Regions from separate parts of the Homo sapiens genome. Here region 2 is linked to region 1. The links come from fine-mapping of genetic effects on gene expression. A gene starts in region 1. The other region holds a variant in brackets. All regions are shown on one strand. Distances are from middle to middle.

What was found. PIP is the estimated chance that this variant, and not a neighbour inherited with it, causes the effect.
Region 2: its variant is fine-mapped to the expression of RGS6 in lymphoblastoid cells after a statin (CAP, PIP 0.91). The same link has a PIP of 0.9 or more in lymphoblastoid cells.

Annotation. Positions count from the first base shown.
Region 1 is chr14:71,929,361-71,934,743 of GRCh38, reverse strand. It overlaps RGS6 (regulator of G protein signaling 6), which reads right to left and starts at 2,315. Exons shown (of 18, transcript NM_001204424.2): 1 at 1,803-2,315. LOC124903404 (translation initiation factor IF-2-like) reads right to left here and starts at 2,818. Exons shown (of 2, transcript XM_047432046.1): 1 at 2,719-2,818; 2 at 1,854-2,575. The coding sequence starts at 2,818. The coding sequence ends at 1,854. RefSeq lists silencers at 2,067-2,226, 2,247-2,526.
Region 2 is chr14:72,490,464-72,495,846 of GRCh38, reverse strand. It overlaps RGS6 (regulator of G protein signaling 6), which reads right to left. Exons shown (of 18, transcript NM_001204424.2): 13 at 585-695. Among named protein-coding and RNA genes, the nearest start is that of MIR7843, 24 kb to the left of the region's middle. The variant TTC/C (reference allele first, on the strand shown) is at 2,344.

The sequences.
Region 1 (5,383 bases):
CAAAATTACTGGCAAATTGTCCACAGTAACCTAAATTTATTTTTCTTTCTCAAGAAACGTCTACTTACTTCAAAAACATCTATGTTGCAGATCTTATTCTGCAAGTCAAAAATAAATAAATAATTAAAATGGACTCATTTAAATAAACATTTCTGCCACAAAAGCATTGTCATAATGTTTCACTTGATAAGATGAATTTATTGCTTCAAAGAAAATCTAGTCTTGTTTTACTGAAACTCTCAGCAATATAAATTCAGTGAATGTTAACTGAAATTCCTTAAAGAAAATCAGAAGTAAAGTTAAGATCTGCCAGAATAAATATATAAAAGGAAACACTGGTGGCCTCTCTCCTTCATCACAATACCTCCCAACAGCTGACATTTATAGAACTTGCAGACTCTTTCAGGAAAGGATGAGTTATTGGGAATAGACTCTCTCTACATATATATAGTTTATGGTGCATGAGATCATATTTACAGGACAATTTAGCTTAAGAGTGGTACAATATCAAAGAACTTAGAATTTATCATCTATAGCATGCGAGATTTGGCTTGCAAAGGTTTCTCTCTCAAGAGTCTCACCAAATGTCCCTCAGCCCTCTACTTTCCTTCACAGAGTAGTCCCACCCATTGAAAAAGTGATAAATTAAGAATAAAGAATATACATCTTACAGAAAGTTTCCCACCATAGTCCCAGTTCCCACTCTATGTAATTACCTATTTGCCTATGAAAATTGATATGTAAGAGCCGTGTTGTCAACACATTTAACTAAACCTAACAGTTTCCTTTCAGTCTTAACACTTTTTGACAGACCATACACACACAAACTTGTAGCTCATTCTCTAACTCCATTTTGATACTTACAAGCCCAGTTCTTCCATCTCTCACCCTCCCTGGAAAGAAAGTCCAGTGGAAGTTTTACCTAAACTTGATTATTTTTGCGTTTTTCTTTGGGGTTGTTAAAGGTATTGATCAGAACTCACCTCCCAAGCATTGATAATCCCAAGCCGACGAGACCCCAAATATCTTCAGTTTGTAACATAGAAATGCTACTGGTCTCAATGACAGAGAAGGAAAATAACGTTCCTACTCCGTCAAATTAAGAAACAAAAATGAAATACAGCAGCTTTCATTCTGAACAAAACTAAATTTTCTGGGTCACTTTCCCTGTCTCACTGGGCCACTTCTTTACGCAGCCTGCTGGTGACTGTAAACACGGTCTCTTCACTCCTCACGCAACCAGTTCATTTGTCATCCTCTCCAAGCGAATAGCCACCGCTTCCTTTGCTAGCGCAGTTCCCAAACAACAAACCTCCCCACCCGCCCCTGCCCTCCACACCTCACCGCGGAGACTCGCTTTCTTTTCTTCCAAACCACAAATGGGCGAGCTTGTTCAGGGAAAAAGTTAATGAACGCCTGATTAGAGGCAAAGCTGCCCTACCTGCGATCACAACATCGGAAGACTGGAAGTATCTAAAAGCGCCATCCTCTGCGCTCTCGTCCCCGTCGGTGTGCGCTTCACACCCAGAAACCCAGGAACATGATTTATATGCAGACCTGCACCCATCCCACACAAGTCCACACGCCAGCTTGCCTAACCACTTATGTAAGCTCGTGCTTCCACAGTCCCAAACTGCAGACACACACACACGGGCACCTGTCACGCATCTGAAATGGACAAGCACCCACACCCAGGAGATGAAATCAACACATATTAATGGGGTGGGGAGGGAGGATACTGTTTTAAACCATGTTTTTCCCCCATTTGTTTCTTGCCCATTTTTTATCACAACTACAATTACCTTAGCAACCAAAGAATTGCCTTGACTCTCCCTCTGGCTCCAGAATTTTTCCTAAAGCCAACCTTGCGCCAGGTTCATGATAAAGCTGGAGAAGCCCAGGGAACCGGGGACCGGCAGCCTCTTGGGGGCGGAGGGGAAGTCTAGTCCGTCTCCGCGCCGCTCCCCACAGCCTCGCCTCCTCTTTCCGAGTTTCCGTGGTGGCGAGCGCAGGGGCTCAGCGAGCGAAGAGCGAAGCCCCGGGCCCGCGAGGACGCGCGGCGGGTCGCATGGTGCCGGGACTCGGGGCGCACAGGGTGTCCCCGGCGCGCTCCGGGCTGGCCTGGCTCTCCGCGCTCCCAGGCGTTCGCCGCTTGCCCGCCTCTGCCCGCCCCGGTCGGCAAGGGTGCGCGGAGGTCTGTCCGTTCCCTCGGCGCCTGGCGGCTCCGGCGGCTGTAGGAACGCGGCGCCCAGGCGGAGCTCTCGCCGCCGAGCAGGGCCGAGCGCGAGGAGCTGCCCCAACTCGCGAAGCCGTTCAGCTCCGCGGCCCGCGAGCTGCTGCAGCGGCGCCCGCTGTCGGATGCCGAGCGGAGCTGCAGCCCCGTGCCCCGCGCACCTGGGCGCCGGCACCTGGGCCCCGGCACCTGGGCCCGGACCGCGTGCTGCAGGGAGGGGCCGGCGGGCGGGGACCGGCACCTGAGCGCGTCCCGCGGGCGCCGCCGCACGGCTCACCTGTTCCCAGAGCCGCGGAAGGCGCAGACCGTGATTTGCTCGAGGAGGAGAAAACCTAGAAATGCCTCATCCTCAAGAAGCCGCCGAGAAAACCGAGAGACTGGCTCGACCGGGCGGAGGCTGCTTTCGTCAATTCCAAACTGGCCCGGTCCGGAAACTTCAGCGGCGTCAAGGTTCTCTTAGGGATTCCCGGCCCGGGGTGAGGTGCCCGGCGGCTTCTGAATCTCCCTCACTGACGTGTTGCTGGCGCCCTCTAAATTAAAACGGGACACCGCGACCGTCAGCGATATTGTTCCTAACCTCGTCATTTTTATGTATTCAACATGCACACCACACGCTGCATTTGGAATATTACAGGATGATTCCTATCTGGAACACTACAAAAGAACTTTCGAGAAAAGTAACTCTCAGATATTCTTGGGGGAAGCAGAAAAAAGTCGAAGACAGAAAATGAGAAAGTAACTTGAACTGATGCCTTTCTTTAACGTGGGAGTTTTGAAATGCGATGTGTACTTAGATTCAAAAAGCTGCAGGTGGAAATAGGACAAGATCACTAGTGCTGGACGGTAACCGTGGGATTTGTGTGCAATATCAATGCTATCAATATCAAGAATAAATTTGAGATTTAGTCCTGAATTGTAGTATGTCACCAGAAAAGGGGAAAAATACTTGAAATAAAATACCTAAATGCCTTTAACGATGGATGACCTGGACTCCTCATTCACATGGGTCCAGAAGTTAAAGAGTAAAGTCTCCTTCCCAAATTGTGTCTTTTCCCGCCATTCTACATTGATTAATGGATGTATTCATTCTTTCCTTCAATAGACAAATAGCACCTGCTCTGTGTTAGACCCTCTTCTAACATTAGAAATGGATAATAAAGGAAGCAGTCTCTGCCCTGAAGCCTTCACGTCGAATGGGATAACACACAAGCAGACATGTGTGTTATGGTAGGCTTAGTACACAGAAAGGCGGGGGGTGGGGGGAAACCTGCAACCAAGAGAAACCATACCCAGCCTAGTGAGGAAAATAGAATTGTAACAGATGTCCCAGTTGTTTATTAAAGCTGAAATATAAAATCTTTCTTTCCTCAGGCTCAATACTTGGCTCAAGCCGGTTGTGGAGCTGGCTGTGGCCGTTTGTCACAGTTAAAGAATAGGCTGTACATGGAGCGAAAGGTAGCAACTAGGGAAACTTCCGCTTTGAGGAGCTCTGCTTTTTTTTTTTTTTTTTTTTTTTTTTTTTTTTTTTTTTTTGAGACGTAGTTTCCTTCTTGTTGCCCAGGCTGGAGTGTGGTGGTGCAATCTTCGCTCACTGCAACCTCCGCCTCCCAGGTTCAAGCGATTCTCCTGCCTCAGCCTCCCAAGTAGCTGGGATTACAGGTGCCTGCCAGCTAATTTTTTGTGTGTTTTCAGTAGAGATGGGGTTTCACCATGTTGGCCAAGCTGGTCTCAAATTCCTGACCTCAGATGATCCACCCGCCTTGGCCACCCAAAGTGCTGGGATTACAGACTTGAGCCACCACACCCAGTGGGAACTCTGCATTTCTGAGGCTAGCAGCTCCTTGAGGGCCAAGTACAGCATGAAGGAATAATACTGTGGAAGTATAAACAGCAGGCTCCAGGCTCATCAGAAGAAAGCCTTACTGTGTACTTCTCTTTAAAAAAAAATATGTGAAATCAGATATTTATAGGAATTAGATATGTATTTTCATATTGATACATTTTGTGTATTATATGGGATTCCTGATATATCTATGTAGTATGGTTTCTTATACATAAAATATCTGATTTCATATGTATGTGTATGTATGTGGGGGGTATTTTATATATATATGTATGTAATAGAGACAGGACACATTTTTTGCTGACATGGCCAAGAGATTGGTTTATGTGCTAGGGAATTGAGCAAAGAAGTAAATACATTAAGAAAATTGGAGCCAGTCATCTCACTGCTGGAGAAGGGAATTACCAATACAGAAAGGCAAGAGATCTAGCTATGTGCCTTGAAGTTGGAGATGAAGGTGTAAAATGATTTTGGATCCAAAGAGATTATAGATAGATAGACAGAAAAATATAAGTGTATATGTGTGTGTATATGGTGATATATTTCCTAGGTTTGTCGACTGAGAAGGCCTAAAAGCAATGGCACCCCAGTAGCAATGAACACACCTAACACTCAGACCTTGGTTTCTTAATACCATCCTCCACTGAAAGGAACCACAGTTCCTTGGTATAGTGGATGAAACTAGAATAATTTGTTGTGCAAGGAAATGAGAAAATACTTAAAGAATTATGGAGACATGTCAAAAGAAGACAGAAGTCAGCTTGAAGGGGTTCCTGTTGGCCAAATCTTGAACTATTTAAGGAGTAAAATAGTTAATGACAAATTTAACCCTTTGAGTAAAATAAGAGTCCATGAGTCCATGCTGATAGAAACAGAGAAGGGAACTCTATAGTAGAATGCGACTAATAAATGAAGAAGAAAAGATAGAATTAGAAAACCACCATTTGGCAACCACCATCTTAATAATTGATTCAGGCCAGAATCATCAATAAATGCTAAAATTGGTGGGTAAAAGTTTGATGAGGAACAGGATATTTACATAGTCTCAAAGCATATCTCTAAAAATGTTCATTAATACATCATTAATTATTAATAAGTACAGCATACTTATTAACATGCAGCTGTAATACTTGGGAGGTATCATCTTAATCGACTGGTAAAATTTTACATAAATGAAAACCAGTGATGGGACAAATCAGCCTTGTGCAGCATCCTGATATGATATGCTGAGAATGTAGTGTCACTTCTTATGCATAAATATGTAAGTTAGGATAAAACATCAGACAAATGCAAATTGAAAGAAAAAT
Region 2 (5,383 bases), 560 kb before region 1:
GGAGAAACTGGCTGGAATCGTTGCTGGCAGTTACTCCAGAAGAACAGAGTGATGAAATCATGGTTCTGGAGCCCTCTGCCTGAGTTCTAGTCCTAACTCTGCTGTACTAGCAGTATGACCTTGGGCAAGTTCATTAACTCCTCTGTGCCTCAGTTTCCATAACTGCTGAGTGGTGAGAATAGTAATGTTTACCTGTCGAGGGGATTCAGTGAGAGACACTTACTGCAGGATGTGGCCAATGCAGAATACGTGCCAGCTATTATCATTATTGTTGCTGTCTAACAGGAAAAAAAATTGGAACAACAGATTCTTTTCTTCCAGCAATCAGAACTAGGGAATGGTGAGGGACTGTCTCAGTTATCATGGTATCCAAAGGGTCAGAGGGGAGCCACAAAGGATCCATGCACAAATCAAAGCTATAAGGAGGTAGAAACTGTAAGTAGAACTCAGCTGGGAGGCTACTTGAGGGGTTTCTGTTCTAGCGATAAAAAATGTCAAATTAAGATAGAATATAAGGTAATCTCATGATCTCATGGATTTTTGTCTACATTCATCCCACTCCCAAACCTTAAAACATTTTTTACCTCATCTCTATGTCCCACAAAGCAACGTCATCGCTGATCCAAGGGTTGGATGGCTCAGCTGGTGTTATCAAAGGGTCATATTCCACATATTGTTCCGTGTAGGCAATTAAACTGCAGGAGGGAGGCAGAGCAAAGAATGCCACTGATTTCCTTAGAAAACCCCTTTATTCTGTTTTACACAAACATTATAGCAGTCTTCACATAATTCTAAATTAAAGGAAAAAATTTATTTCCGCTCCCACTTCTGACACATCAAACTGTTTTCATTTGTCCTTATTTCCTTCTTATAACGAACATACCATTTTTGCACTGTTGCAGCCATGATATATACATGCATTTTATATATCTTTTCCTCACTTGATTCTTTACCTGAACCTTGGTGCATCTCTCCCTGGTTATGCTAGCCTTACTGATACTAATACACTGGTCAAAACTGTTTGTGTTCCACCCTCCCACAAAGACTGATTCTCGAGGCATCTGGAACACACAAAAGACACTACAGCTCCACCAGACTGCCAGCTCAGCATTCCCAACGGAAGGACTTTCTTATGATAAAGACTTTTAAATATCAGCAGACCACAAGGAGTAAACATTTGCATTTTTTTCCAAAAAAGCAACTTTTCTAGTTATAATTATGATCTAATAGATATGTTGATCTTATAGATTGATATAATTTATTTTAGACTAATTTTTATTCTTATCAAAATGTATGTGAATAGTTAGAATAATAAAATAGTACCAAATGATTATATATACTAAAAAAGCAAAAGCAATTATTTTTTCCTCCCATCCCTTCTCAGAGAGGCATCTACTTTCCACCTTATGTTTTTTCTAAAAGCTACCTATATATTTCTAAATTATACGCTTTTATATCTATTCCTGATTTTTTTATTTTAGACAAGAATTTATCTTTCTATTCACCAGTCCTCAACTCCCTCCTTTTCTTACGTGATCCTCCAAATAGATTTGTGTTACAATTTTTGTTAAATCAATGGTCAGTGTAACATTATTAAACTAGATAAAAATTGTTTGCTGTTCAGCTAAATATCATACTACTTTTTCCAAGCAAGTGTTTTAACAAACCTGTAAAACATCTAGCAATCATTTTTTTATACCTTAAACACATCAAATAATTGAGCAGTTCTGTCCTCTTGTTTCCCAGAGATCCTCTTTCCTGAAGTCTTTAGTCTTCTTGCTCGAAACTGGATCATTTGCTCTATAGACTTGATGGAAAATGATCTTTTTGGGACTTCCTTCACTTCTGTGTTGAAAAGCCCATGTTTCCTGGATTCCATGTCTATCTCTTGCTTTTACTCCCTGATTGTGTTGAAGCACATCCTTTAGTAGTTTCGTAATAAAGGATGCATGAGAATCCTTGCAAGTCTAAAAATGCTTTTATCTCCATACTTGACTGATAGTGCTAGACATAGAACACTAGGTGAAAAATCTCTTTCCTTTAGAAATTTGTAGGCATCACTCCATGTTTTTTTTTTTCTGGTATGCAGTGTTACTATTGAGAAGCCTGGATCCATTTTGATTCTCGTTCTTTGGTTCAGTTTCTTTTCTCTCTGTCAACTTAGAATCATCTCTTTATTGCTAGAGTGTTCTGCAATTTCATGATGGCCCTTGCTGGTTGTTGTTATTTACTATGCTGGGCACAGTGTGTGATAGATAAGAAAATAATTATCAGGAATTTTATAGTATTCATCACTAATTTTAAACCCTTTGTTTCCTTTGTTTGCTTGTCCTATATTTTTTT[TTC/C]CAGTTCAATATTGGACATCCTGAATTGTTTATTTTCCCTCCCATTTTTCATCTCCTTGTCTTTTTGTTAAACTCTCTTTTAACTATTTATTTATTTTTTAATTTTGAGCCATTACTTTCTAAGTTTCAGAGTTCACTTTTGGTTATCATAGTGTCTAGTTCTTGTTTTATGGATGAAATACCTTCTCATTTCTCAGATAATATGAGTTCTATACTTTTATTGTAAGTTTCTTCCAGTTGTTGAATTATTTTGGTTCTTCCAAGTTCCTTTTTTCTGTCGGTTTATTTTGATTATACTCTTTCACGCTGAGCCTTCCTGGAGTGTCTGGAAAATCTTTGGACATCCATTTGTACTTAAGACTGAGGTACTGAAACCTGCTTGGCGGCTCAGTGGGCGTGTGGATGGGGCTTGTCACTGATGGGCTTCATTGTCATAGGGAAGTTTACCAGTATTTTAATGGGAGCTCCAAATGAGGGATCTGGAGTCTTTCCTCTGGGGCGTCTATTTTTCCCTAGGGCAGGCATTGGCAAGCTTTTTCTGCAGGGCCTAGATAGTAAATATTTTAGGCTTTGTGGGCCAGATGGTGTCTGTTGCCACTACTCAGCTCTACTGCTGTGGCATAAAAGCAGCCATAGACAGCTTGCAAATGAATGCGTGTGACTGTGTTCTAATAAAACTTTATTTGCAAAAACAGAATGGAGTATGGTTTGGCCCACAGGTTGTACTTTGACAGTCTCTTGCCTGTGGGTATATATGTCTGGCTCCTGGAGGCCTGAGAGCAGGGTCGGGGAGGGGCTGAGGGTCTGTTGGGGCTCAGAACATGATACCCTAAAGTATAGTATGTTGGCATGCTGAGTACTTTGAACTAAAGGAGAATGGAAGGGCCTCAGAAGCCAAGGCTTTCACCTTCTCTCCTGCCCCCGTCTCCCATCCCTTTTTCTCCCCCGACGTAAGTCATAGAAACAAGAATTCTTTTTCGCCAAAGTGGGTCATAGAAACTAGAATGCCTCTCCTGCAAAGCAAGCCACAAAACCTAGAAAGGTCACTCGCTCCCTTCTCCCTTGAAAACCCTCATTCCAGAGAGGTCCTACCTGGGAGGTAGGAATGCTACTCAGAGACACTAAGAAGAATCTGAACAGACAGGCCTTGCTGGGTTTCCTCCCCTCAGTCTGTTACCAGTAGATCACACCCTTTTGTCCAATCACATTTCTACAAGGCTTCCCATTCTTCATGGAACCTAAGCACAAATACAGTTTTCCCTGGGTCTTTGAGTCTTCATTTCTGAAGGCTTCTGTGTCATGTGAAACTGATGAAATAAATGCATTTATGCTTTTCTCTTGTTAACCTCTTTTGTTATAGCAGTGTTGGCCGTAATCCTTATGGTAGATGAGGAAAGGTATCACACTTTCCATCCCTACAGGCCCCACAGTTCAGTGCGTAGAGCTTCCATTAATTCTCTTATTTTCAGGTGGCCTCTTATGAGATCTGATGTGTCTGAGATCTGAGCGTATGTGGCTCAATTTCTCTCAAGAAAAAACTGCCCATCTCCTGCAGTGGTGGTAGGTGGGAAGGATTGTTTCCTAGTAGGGCAGGAGATCTAGGGGTGCAAAGTCTCCTGTGACAGACTTGACCATTCCTCTGCTGTTAGCCCCATGCCTCATTCCTGCTTTCCATGGTCCCTAGTGCCTTCAAGAGCCAAGGCCAGGCTTTGTTGCGAAAACTGGCTCACTTTGTCACATCACTTCTGCCCCCAACATGTAGGTTAGAATGTTCTTTACTCTGTCCCTATGCACTTTCTTTTTTATTAAATTTTGAAATATTTCAGGCATACAGAAATGTATAAAAATTGTAAGATTTTACTTTGATACCTTGTACTCGCTGACCAATTAAAAAAATAAAAAATAACAAATACAGACATAGGGGCCTGTGGTTATGTTCCCCAATTACGTAAACTTTGTATCTTGGACAAATGTGTTGAAATTATTAATAGTTTGTTAACCTTGTGAGTTCATGCCATTTTTGTTCCTTTAGTGACATGTTGCATTTGAGGAAAGGGAGAAGATGAACATATGTCTACAATATTGTCTTGGTTGCATTGAGTGACTTTATTACAATTTACTTAATCGTTTCCTTTTTATTAGACACAGATTTTTTTCTTTTTTAATATACATAGTGCTGTGGTAGAACACCGTTGTTCACACAGATTTTTTTTTTTCATCTTCTGGGTTATTTATTTAGAATGCATATCCATAAGCAGAATTATTTGACCAAAAGGTATGAATATTTTTATGGTTATCGATCCACAATAAAATTTTTCCTTAAGCATTGCCAGCTTGTGTGTCAGCATCTTCTCCCACAACAGCAAAGTCAGAGCCACAATTCCTACTACTGAATTGCAAAGGGCAATAATGGCCAATTAGCTTAATGCTGAACAGGCAGAGAAATTAGTCAGAGGTGCCATCTCATGCTACTGGAAGTGTGATCCATAAACCAGCTGCACTGGCATCACCTGGGAGCCTGTTAGCAATGCAGGATCTCAGGTCCCAGCCCAGGCCTCCTGAGTCAGATTCTGCTTTTTAATAGGATCCCCCAGGTGATTCATATGCACATCCAAGTTTGAGAGAACCATATCTCATTCCTCAATTTTCTGAAACATTCAGGACACAAGATGTTTTATTCATCAAATCAAAATGAAAGAGCCCCTGGTAATTTTGGTTTTGAAGATGGATGTAAATTTTCGGACACCTCAGAGCCTCCTCGCTGTCCCAGGTGTTTATCATGACCCCTGGGGTAGAAGCAGCAGTGGTCCCAGTTGAAAAGCCTTAGTTTGAATTCTTGGTTGAGTCATTTAACTGATCTTTGTCAAGTTCATCATGTTATATAACAGGCTTGTTGAGCACTCAGGACCATTGTGATAGAAAATGGGAAAGCATCTCCAAAGAATCTTGACAATCCTCTACAAATATAAAATAGACAAGCGAAACCACGGGCACACTAGAGGCACATCCTCTGTCCTATAAATCTCCTGCAAGGTATG